Linked DNA regions of Homo sapiens: region 2 is linked to region 1. The links come from fine-mapping of genetic effects on gene expression. Tissue or cell type: lung. Region 1 holds a variant in brackets; the other region holds the start of a gene. All regions are shown on one strand. Distances are between the middles of the regions.

The links. PIP is the estimated chance that this variant, and not a neighbour inherited with it, causes the effect.
Region 2: it holds the start of VPS41, and the variant in region 1 is fine-mapped to the expression of VPS41 in lung (TOPMed, PIP 0.94).

Annotation. Positions count from the first base shown.
Region 1 is chr7:38,732,669-38,737,932 of GRCh38, forward strand. All of the region lies in intron 25 of VPS41 (VPS41 subunit of HOPS complex), which reads right to left. Among named protein-coding and RNA genes, the nearest start is that of AMPH, 100 kb to the left of the region's middle. The variant G/A (reference allele first, on the strand shown) is at 3,055.
Region 2 is chr7:38,906,124-38,911,123 of GRCh38, forward strand. VPS41 (VPS41 subunit of HOPS complex) reads right to left here and starts at 3,068. Exons shown (of 29, transcript NM_014396.4): 1 at 3,031-3,068. The coding sequence starts at 3,051. RefSeq lists an enhancer at 3,076-3,175.

The DNA.
Region 1 (5,264 bases):
TTTTAAAAAAAAGATAGGGCTATAATTTTCTCATACTGCCCTCACGTAATGCTGGTATTAGGGTTACACTAGCATTCCATAAGGAACTGAGGAACTTTTCCATTCAATTATCTGGAAAAGTAAATGTAACACAGAAGCTGCTTTTTATTTAGTTTTATTATTTTTAATTAATTTTTTTTGACAAGGTCTTGCTCTGCCACCCAGGCTGAAGTACAGTAGCATGATCAGAACTCACTGCAGCCTTGACCTCCTGCACTTAAGTGATCCTCCTGCCTCAGCCTCCCATGTAGCTGGGACCACAGGCATGAGCCATCACGCCCAGCTAATTTATGTATTTTTAGTACAGACAGGTTTTCACCATGTTGCTCAGGCTTATCTCAAACTGCTGAGCTCAAGCCATCCGTTCACCTCAGCCTCCCAAAGTGACGAGATTACAGGCATGAACCACCGTATCCAGCCAGCTATTTTTTAAAAGGATAAAACTTGTCTCTAAAACTGTCTATGGAATAAGTGCCTTTATTGTAGCTATACATTTTGACTACCAATGTAATTTAGTTAATGATTATAGGTCTATTCTATTTGCTTGAGTAAACTTTTACAACTTATTATTTTCCTAGAAAATTGTACAGTTCTTCTGAGTTTTCGAAGATATTGATATAAACTCGTATTCTTTGTTTATTTCAGGTGTTGAAAACTTAGTCTGCAAGGACTTTGTTTTTTACGGTTATGCTGGTTGTTTCCCCGTGCCTTTTTCTTAAACTTTATGGAATTTGCAAATACATTTTGTGATGTTTCCTGAAGGTTTATAGACTACAGAAGCTTATAAGCATGCAGTTTTGAAGATTATGTCCTCCTTCACACCAAAAGTAGTTTTTGTTTTCCAAAGTATGTCTAACTGGCCTTTCAAAGATCAATCATTTTTAACCCACTAAAAACTTTCTCACCTGTTTCCTCCTGTTTTACCCTGGTTTCTTATTCTCTGTGTTGGACAGCCTCTGATATCACTTTCAGAACTTAAAACTAGTTTGAAACATCTCTATGAAATATCTCTACTTGGTAAATTAAACAGCACCATTATTAACCTTTGCTTTGTAACCTATGTCTCTTATTAGAGTATCACTGACAATCGGATGGTTGTGGTAGCTCACACTTATAATCCCAGCACTTTGAGAGGCTGTGATAGGAGGATCTCTTGAGCCCAGGAGTTCAAGCCCAGCCTGGGCAACATAGTGAGACCCTGTCTCAACAAAGAATTAAAATAAAAAAAATTAGCCAGGCATAGTGGCGCATGCCTGTAGTTCCAACTACTCCAGAGGTTGAAGTGAAAGGATCACTTGAGCCCGGGAGGTCAAGGCTACAGTGAGCTGTGACTGCACCACTGCCATGCTCCAGCCTGGGCAACAAAGTAAGGCCCTGTCTCAAAACAAAACAAAAAGAATTTCACTGAGGATAAACCAGTCTTTTCTTTCCTCAACTTCATAATGGTATTAATTTTCATCTCAAAAAATACTTGTAGGCATAGCTTAGAAAGTACAATATTATCTTTCAGAGATTTATTTTCCTTACAGGACTTTCCTATATTTTTCCAAGATTATTCAAATCTAGGGGTCAATTTCTTCTTACATCCTACTCCAGGATTCTTGTTTTCTTGATATTACTTTGTTTCCTTCCATAGTTCTAAGTTTTTCTAAATTACATATTTTATCAACGTGACCTTTACTCTTCCCTTTTCGTCATTTTGAAGTCAACCAGCTATGGCTTCTATAAACAACCTGTTACATATTATATTTTGTGCTACTGTAAATTTAAATAAGAATGAATTTACAACACGACTGTTGAAAATCAACATGAGAACTTAGATTTGCCTTATCTTCCCCCTTTCTCCTTATTTCTCTGCAGTTCATCATCATTGATAATAATCCCAACCAAAAGCAAAACACCAGACCCACAGAGATTTTATAAAGCAATAAAAGAACTGTATATCAGCAAAGTTATTATGGTTCATTAGAAACAGCGGCCATGCGAAAAATGCCATCAAAAGTTGCCAAGTTTCTGAAATTTTTATTTTAAAAGATTCTTCGAACACTAAACATTTTGCTGACATTGCCTTGTTCATACTGCAATGCTTATCATTAGAACTGCAAATGACAGACAGCTACCTGGTTTTAAAAGCCCCCAATATGACACAGGGTAGACTGAGAAACTTTTCCCCTCATTTCTAATCCTTCCTTTAGGTCACAATGCTATGGGACTTGAATTCTTCTTGAAAAAGCTTTGCTTTCGGCTGGGATTCTTATAAAAATGATGAACTGCAGAGAAATACGAAGGGAAAGAGATCCTAAGGTCTTATGTTGGAGTTCAGAAACAATCTTATAAACACAATTGTATTTAAATTTCTAATAGCACAAAGTATGGATGTACCAAATTAATTTTAAAAGCTACAGCTGGTTGTCACAGGCCACCTATGTCACCTAAAAGCTGTGATAAGGCAAAACTGAAATAATTTCAAAAGGAAAACAACAAATCTCATTTGGTCTTAAAAGTTTATTTCATGAACATATAAATTCAAAAACTCTCTCTTAGAAGAAAATTAGGAGCTTATATACTGAGAGTCAAAAAGAAACCCACGTAGGCCCAAAAAAAGGTTAGTAAGAAAGAAGCCATTATTTCCTCTTATCCCATTTGGATTGCAAAATAGAGATATGGGAAATAAAGGACTATGGGGACTGCAGCAAATGCAAATTTGGGAAAATAACTTTGGAAGGCATGGAGATGTCTGAAATCAGTTTATCAGTTTGGATGAGGTATGTGTGTGTACATGTGTGTGTCTCTGTGTGTGTACATGTGTATATGTGTATGTGTGTGTGTCTGTGTGTATGGTGTGCGTAGTTTAACAAAATGGAAGTGTTAAGGCATTTTACTTCTCCCAGAAACATCAATTTAGATCATGAGCAGCATGAACAAAGGGCTGTGTCTCGCTCATCCCCAGGTCTATGAGACCAAATGGAGGCCCTGTTAGCACAGAACATACTGTCTGACACAGGAGGTACTCAT[G/A]TATCTGAATAAATGTGTTTATAAGTCATCAAGTATATGGCACTTTGAAAACAACTATTCCATGAGACATTAAGGCCTCTGACAGCCCCTCTGTTAAGAAGACACCCATCAGTGTTGCTGACTTCATCTGAGAAGGGCTGTCCTGCTACCTAGCCCCGGCCAGGGTTCAATCCAAGGGGCAGTTGGGAGGAACAGGGCAGGGGAGGGAAGGGAGTCAAGGGATGGACAATTTGTCATTTTTTTTCTTTAAATAAATGTCATTTTTGAGGCAAAAGAAAAAACCGTGAAAAATAAACCCCAATTATACCTAAAAATCTAAGCTGCTTTATTAGATCCCAAAATAAATATTAAGGCTTACATTAAAATATTAAGTTAACATTAAATATGCAGCTGTATTCAATATGTAAAGAGATATTTATAAAACGCCTCTGTTAAGAACTTTAGAAACAAAAGATATTTTAGAGATCATCTAATCTCAAGGTTCTCAAATTTCAATACATAGACTAGTGCCAGACTAGGTGTGTAAGAAATATCAAGGTGGTTTAAGGACATGCTCCCTAGTCCTTCCCAAGAGAGTCTCATTCAGCAGATCTGGGCTGGGTGCCTGAAACTATGTAACGTATACAAGAATCCAGATGATACTGGTGTGCAGCCAGACTTCACAAACACTGGCTTAATCTAACTGGGAAGCCAAGCTCCAGAAAGCTGAAGTGCCTTACCAAAGTCTCAATAGGCTTGTTAATGGCAAAGCCAGAACAGGAGCCCACGTCTGCAAATACCATGTCCACCGCTCTTTAAAAGACAACAGTTGCCTATTTGTCTTCCATGCCAATTCTGTATGTGACTCTGGCATAAACTGCCAGTACAATGAATGCATCTCCAGAGACCAAATGGGCCCAGCAGTGAGAGATACACAGGATATGATGTGGAAGACCACACAACAGCACTATGTAGATAGTCCCTTTTTATCCAGAGATAACATAAATGAAGTACCTCAAGGCACTTCACAGACACTGCTAGAATAGAAAGGAGGATGAGAATCATAATTGTAAAACTGAAAGCATGAGCACCAAAAAGTTTTGGCACATATTTGTCTTATACATGGATTAAAAACAAAAGCATTCACAAATAGTTAAACCTAATTATAGGGAGTGGCAAATCTCATCTACAAAGCTTCTATCTCAAGAAAAAGAACAGTACAGGGTGGATTTTCCCTCCCTCATCAGGTGAGTTGACCTTATTTTCAATATGCAGAGATTCCACATTCGCACCACTTTTGAAAGTTGGTGGAAAAGGAAGTTGGGCAATGCCTCCCTTAGATTGGTAGCTGGGGAGAGAATTATCTATCTTTAAAAAACTAAAATAAAAACAGGCCAGGCGCGGTGGCTCACACCTGCCATGCCAGCACTTTGGGAGGCCGAGGCAGGCGGATCATGAGGTCAGGAGATGAAGACTATCCTGGCCAACATGGATAAACTGTCTCTACTAAAAATACAAAAATTAGCTGGGTATGGTGGCACGTGTCTGTAATCCCAGCTACTCAGGAGGCTGATGCAGGAGAATTGTTTGAACTAGAGAGGTGGAGTTTGCAGTGAGCTGAGATCACGCCACTGCACTCCAGCCTGGCGACAGAGCAAGACTCCGTCTCAAAAAAATAAAAATAAAAAATAAAAACAAAACTTCATAACCCTAGTCTTGGTCATAGATACAGACAAAATAAAACATAAATCAAAAGCAAGAGTAATGGCAAGCATTACCCATGAAAAGAAAACTTAAAACTGCCAAATTGTAGGAGGCAGAGCAGCACCAAGTGCACAGGCTTGGAATCCTGGCTCTACTGCATGACATGGGCAAATCATGCAACATCTTCTAGCTTCAACTTTCTCATCTGCAAAGCAGGGGCGAGGGCCTGCTGGGAGAACCACGTGGCATGATTCTGCCAAGTGTAAAAGGATACAAATATGGGGGTCGATCACCACAATAACACAAGTCCAGAGGAGTTTCCATCACAGTGGAAACTCCTGAGTGTTGTGTCCATCTTGTAAAGGCTAAGTTTCTGTAGTGATCTTTGAAAGTTTTGTAATCCTGTGACCCAAACCAGTGCCCAAAGCTGAACATCCTGCTCCAGAGAGAAATGTAGAGAAACCTAACTAGGCAGGTGTTGGCCTAAAGGCAATTCAGCTTTGTACCCAATGCCTTAGATCCAGTTA
Region 2 (5,000 bases), 170 kb after region 1:
GCTTTAAAAAAATGGTATAATAAAGCCCTACTACCGTCATCAGATTTCAATGGCTTCCTACTGTGAAATGCAAAAACAAATCAGAGAAAAGCCTAACCATTTTTAATCTATAAAGGATAAGATTAGGTACAATTACTTACTTTCTTTTAAAAAAAAGAACTGAACAATTTGTGAATGTGTCTTTCAGCCATTTACAACAGACTGCTGGGTTTTTTTTTGTTTGTTTTTCGTTTTTTTTTTAAACAGGGTCTTGCTCTGTTGCCCAGACTGAAGTGCAGTGGCACGATCATGGCTCACTGCTGCCCCGACCCTCTTGACTCAAGCAATCCTCCCACCTCAGCCTCCCGAGTAGCTGGGACTACACACCACCATGCCTGGCTAATTTTTGTAATTTTTGTAGAGATAGGGTTTTGCTATGTTGCCCAGGCTCGTCTCGAACTCCTGGGCTCAAACAATCGCCCCACCTTGGCCTCCCAAAGTGCTGGGATTACAGGTATGGGCCATTGTGCCTGGTCCACGACTAGTCTTTTTAAGATACTGACACCACTGGAGAGGAGAATGCCCACTCCAACTACATATTGGCTGTTAAAGCATCAAAGTGGAATGGTGGCTTGAGGGAAAATCATTAAAATGGAAAGGGCTAATTCTACTTCATAAAGTAAAAAAACTATTTAGATTTAGGTTCTTACATATATTTTAAAAAGGTAGGGTATTCTAGTGAAAAGTCATGAGCTATGGAGACAGAGGACTGGAGATTTATTATATTATAGATATAAGCCTGAGCACGTTACTCAAGTTGCCTGAATTTCAATTTGTTTATCAGTAAAAGTCAATCATTTAACACAAATTTATTAAGTAACAAGCAATATTCTAGGTATTGGACATACAGCAGTGAACAAATCCTTGTCAGGATGTTCCAAGCTCTGTGGTAAGAGGTACACAGAAATATACAGGGAAAAAAAAAAAAACAAATTTTATAATACAGTATGTCAAACGGTGATGCACATTATAGGGAAAAATAATGCAGGAAGGTTTCAAAGCATGGTCAGGGAAGGTCGCAATGAAAAAGAACACTTGGACAAAGACATGAAGGAAATGAGGAAGCCTGTAAATATCAGGGTTCCTCAAAAAGGAACAGCATGAGCAAAGAGGCCCTGAGATAGGAACCTGCCTGGCTTTTTGAAGACTAAGAGAGCCAGTACAGCTGATGCAGAGTCACAGAAGGGAAGGAGAGTAGTGGGAAAAATGAGGTCAAGAAAAGGTGGCTAAGGGCAGCTGGGTCAAGGTCCTGTGGGACAACCAGGCTACCGTAATGGCTGTGGCTTTTCCTCTGAATAAGATTAGAAGCCCCTGGAAAGTCTAGAATATCAGAGGTGTTTCACCCATGTATGAGAGTAAACATTTACCTCATAGAATTCTTTTGGGAAGACCAAATGCAATATGGAAGGGTTTTTAAAACTAGAAAATAATGTACAAATGTGAAACATTATTATATCCCTAATTTTGTATGTGTCATTTTTATATCAGACAACTTTGTTAAATTCTTCTTCTGCACTAAACAGTGGTAAATATTTCATAGGTTTTTTTCAATGGAAGAAAAAACAATGGTTTTTCTAGGAGCAACTCTCTCCATTTCTATTCCACTATATCTAAGAACATATGAAACTCAGTTTTTTGCTTTCAAATCAAACCATAAAACAAACATTTCAACATGAAATAAAGATGCACAATGTGAAAAACAATCTCACCCTTATTCAAAGGAGCAATGGCAGTCATGAAATGATATGTTCTTAATGAGTGTTTTCCTTTGAACTGCTAGAATGGAAATAGGAGTCTCTAGTGTTAGATAAGAGACTTTGTTATCTTGTTATCACAAGGACCAGCCAAACCAAATTTCTACCTAGTCAAACGTCTCAATTATTGGCATATATAAAATATATACAGAACAAATTTTCACTATGAAGTAAAAACAAATGAAGTATGTTGAAAATAGTAAAAATTATTGAACTAGGTAAATGACTCTTATGATACTAAACAGCCCATCATCAAGTCACTGTTTAGAGACAATGACTGCAACTGACAGCCCTGTTAACTTGTGAAGAAAAACAGTATCCAACTGAAATAACACTGGAAATGGAAACTTAAGTTATCTCCCCCAAGTTCTAGCCTCTTTTTTGGTCTGCTTCTCTTTTTTGTCTTTTTTATTTTACTTCGTCATTTCATAAAATGTGTGATTACCACTACTGCTATATGAAAATAATTCATATTCCCATCACCAATTTCTACCCTAAACTTCAGTGCCACGTTGCCAGTTGTTGACTGGATACTACCAGCAACAAATAATCCCATTTAATTTTTACTAAGCCCAACAGTTCTAAGTACTCTAACTTTGTGTATAAACTCCTCTCTCCATCTTAAACCACCCTCTGAGGACGGCCTTATTATTACCCCCATCTCACACTGGAAAGTTAAATAAGTAGCTCAAAGTAGCACATTGGGTAAGAAAAGGAACCAGCACTTGGACCCCAGGCATTTTTGCTCCAGAACGGATGCATTTAATCCCTGCTGCACCGCAACAGTGCTCCAGCTCTGTACCTAACTCCAATAGATACAAAACAAAACTCATCGTCTACTCTCTCCTAGTTCTTATTGTCCTACTTCAAGTGGAAAGCAACTTAAATTTCAGTCACCCGGCCTCTCTTCCTCCTCCCACAGGCAGTCAGTCCCTGAGGTAGCCGGGCCTGCCTTCATGCCAAAATTTCCCTGGGCAAAGGCCACAGGGATGGGGCCCGAGGAAAGGCAGCCCGAACGCGGGGGTGTGTCAGAGCGCTTTCCCTAGGTGCCCTCCCGGGGCTGGCATCCTCTCTGCTCCCCGAAACCAACTTTCGCCATCCCACCCCGCCCTGCCGCGGACCTGCCTTGCGCTATTCCAGCAGCTCCGCACCTCCACCCACTCCACTCCACCCTCCCCAAACAGCCCACCCTAGTCTCTATATCCCTGTGCCCTCAACTACCACCTGCACCCTTTACCTGCTCCTCTGCTTCCGCCATGGCGCCACGGGAGAGTCACCTGACAGACCCGGAAATAAGAGGAAACCACACACTTGGCCCAGGGCCTTCTGGGAAATGTAGTTTTAGCTTCATCTGAGCCTGGAAATCTCTTCTAGGGGACGGACCTGCTAGGGTTCATTTCTGCTGCCAATTCTCCAAACTCAATGGAATTCTGCTTTGAAGGATGTGAACATAACCATTGCTAATACTATAGCTTATTTTATTGTTGTTCTTGTTTCTCTAGTTATTCTAGTGTTTATTAAGCACTTACTATGTCATGCCCTGGGTTTATAGCTTTGCATAAATTATCTCATTTAATCCTCACAGCAATTCCTACTATCATCCCCATTTATAGGGGAGAATACCGTAGCTCAGAGGTCATGCAGCTAGTAAGAGGCAGAACTAGTAATAGAATTCAGCCCTGCCTGATGCCAAAGTCTCTGTGATTGCCAAATGCTGCTTACTCTAAAAGTGTTCTTGTCCTTTTTTCTCTCTCTTTTTTAAGTATATTCAGTGAATATAAAGCAGTCTTTGCAGTGGAGAGTCAGAGAAAATTTATACGCCAACAAATAATATCATTATTTTTGCTTGCTACTTTGTCTTCTCCTGTCATATGAACATTGATTTAAAAAAAATCTCTGTTGTTTAATAAATTAATTGTTAAACTTTTGTTGAGGATATTCAATAGGTAAATGTTCAAGTGAAGACACAATATGAAGTTGTCCTTGGTCAAAATCTGCACAACCACTGTATTACTTCCAGCCTTCAGAATGACTGATTCCTTCTCCATGTTTCTGAACATTATGAATTCTGTTTCTTAACCCTCAGGAATCTGCAGCACCTTGTCCAAAGACAGACATTTTACAATTTCCATTCACTGGAGTAGCTGGTGACCAGCAGAGGGCATTGCAAATGGCAGCATGTGGTGATTGCCTCAGTACCTTTTTTGACTCCCTGTGCCTCATTGACTCTGACCCAGTAGGAAGTCATGGACTCAGTACTCTGTCTGTAGCTTGCTCAACCCATGATTCCTCAATGGCCCAGAAGCCAAGGTGACATCATCTCTGAGACACCTGTCTTCTCCCCAGGGCCTAAACAGCCTTACCTCCATCTTCTTCCTCCAAGCCTTGCTGGGGTTCCTCTTCCAGTGGGCTAATCACTCAGCCGACAGGATAGACCACCCTGAGGCATTTAAATGTCTATAAGCAGCCAGGTGCAGTGGCTTTCACCTGTAATCCCAGCACTTTGGGAGGCCAAGGCAGTCAGATTTCATGAGCTCAAGAGTTTGAGACCATCCTGGACAACATGGCAAAACCCTGTCTCTACAAAAAATACCAAAAATTAGCCGGGCATAATGGTGTGCGCCTGTAGTTCCAGCTACTCAGGAGGCTGAGGTGGGGGTTAAGGCTGCAGTGAGCATTGATGGTGCCACTGCACTCCAGCCTGGGCAACAGAGTGAGACCCTATCTGAAAAAAAAGAAAAAAGAAAAAAGAAATCCATAAGCAAGCACCCAATGCCCTAAGTATAAACCTAGGGCAAGTATAAACCTAACCCAAGAGTTTCTAAAATCTCTTGCAAAGCAGCCCAGGGCCAAACATTGCTCATGATGAACTCCAGATCCCAGAAAAACTTTAATACAGACCAAAGAGACTGTGGAAGCCCTCAGTCGAGTATCCACGGGAAAGAGAAATAAAATGAGCTCTTCCACTTTTCTGACTTTCCTCACAAACTCCAATTTTCTCTTTTCTGTTATGAGTGACAGCCACCCATAAACCTCTAGGACTACAGCCTCTCCAACTGGGCAATCTCCTCTTCTATGCTGAATGGATGAGATTGGGATGAAGAAGGAAAATAAGGGATTATTACCACTGTCTTAACCACAAGGTCATTTTTGTTTTATGGTTCCATTTTATTTTGGTGAGAAGTCAAGCAGCCCAAGCAAGCAAAG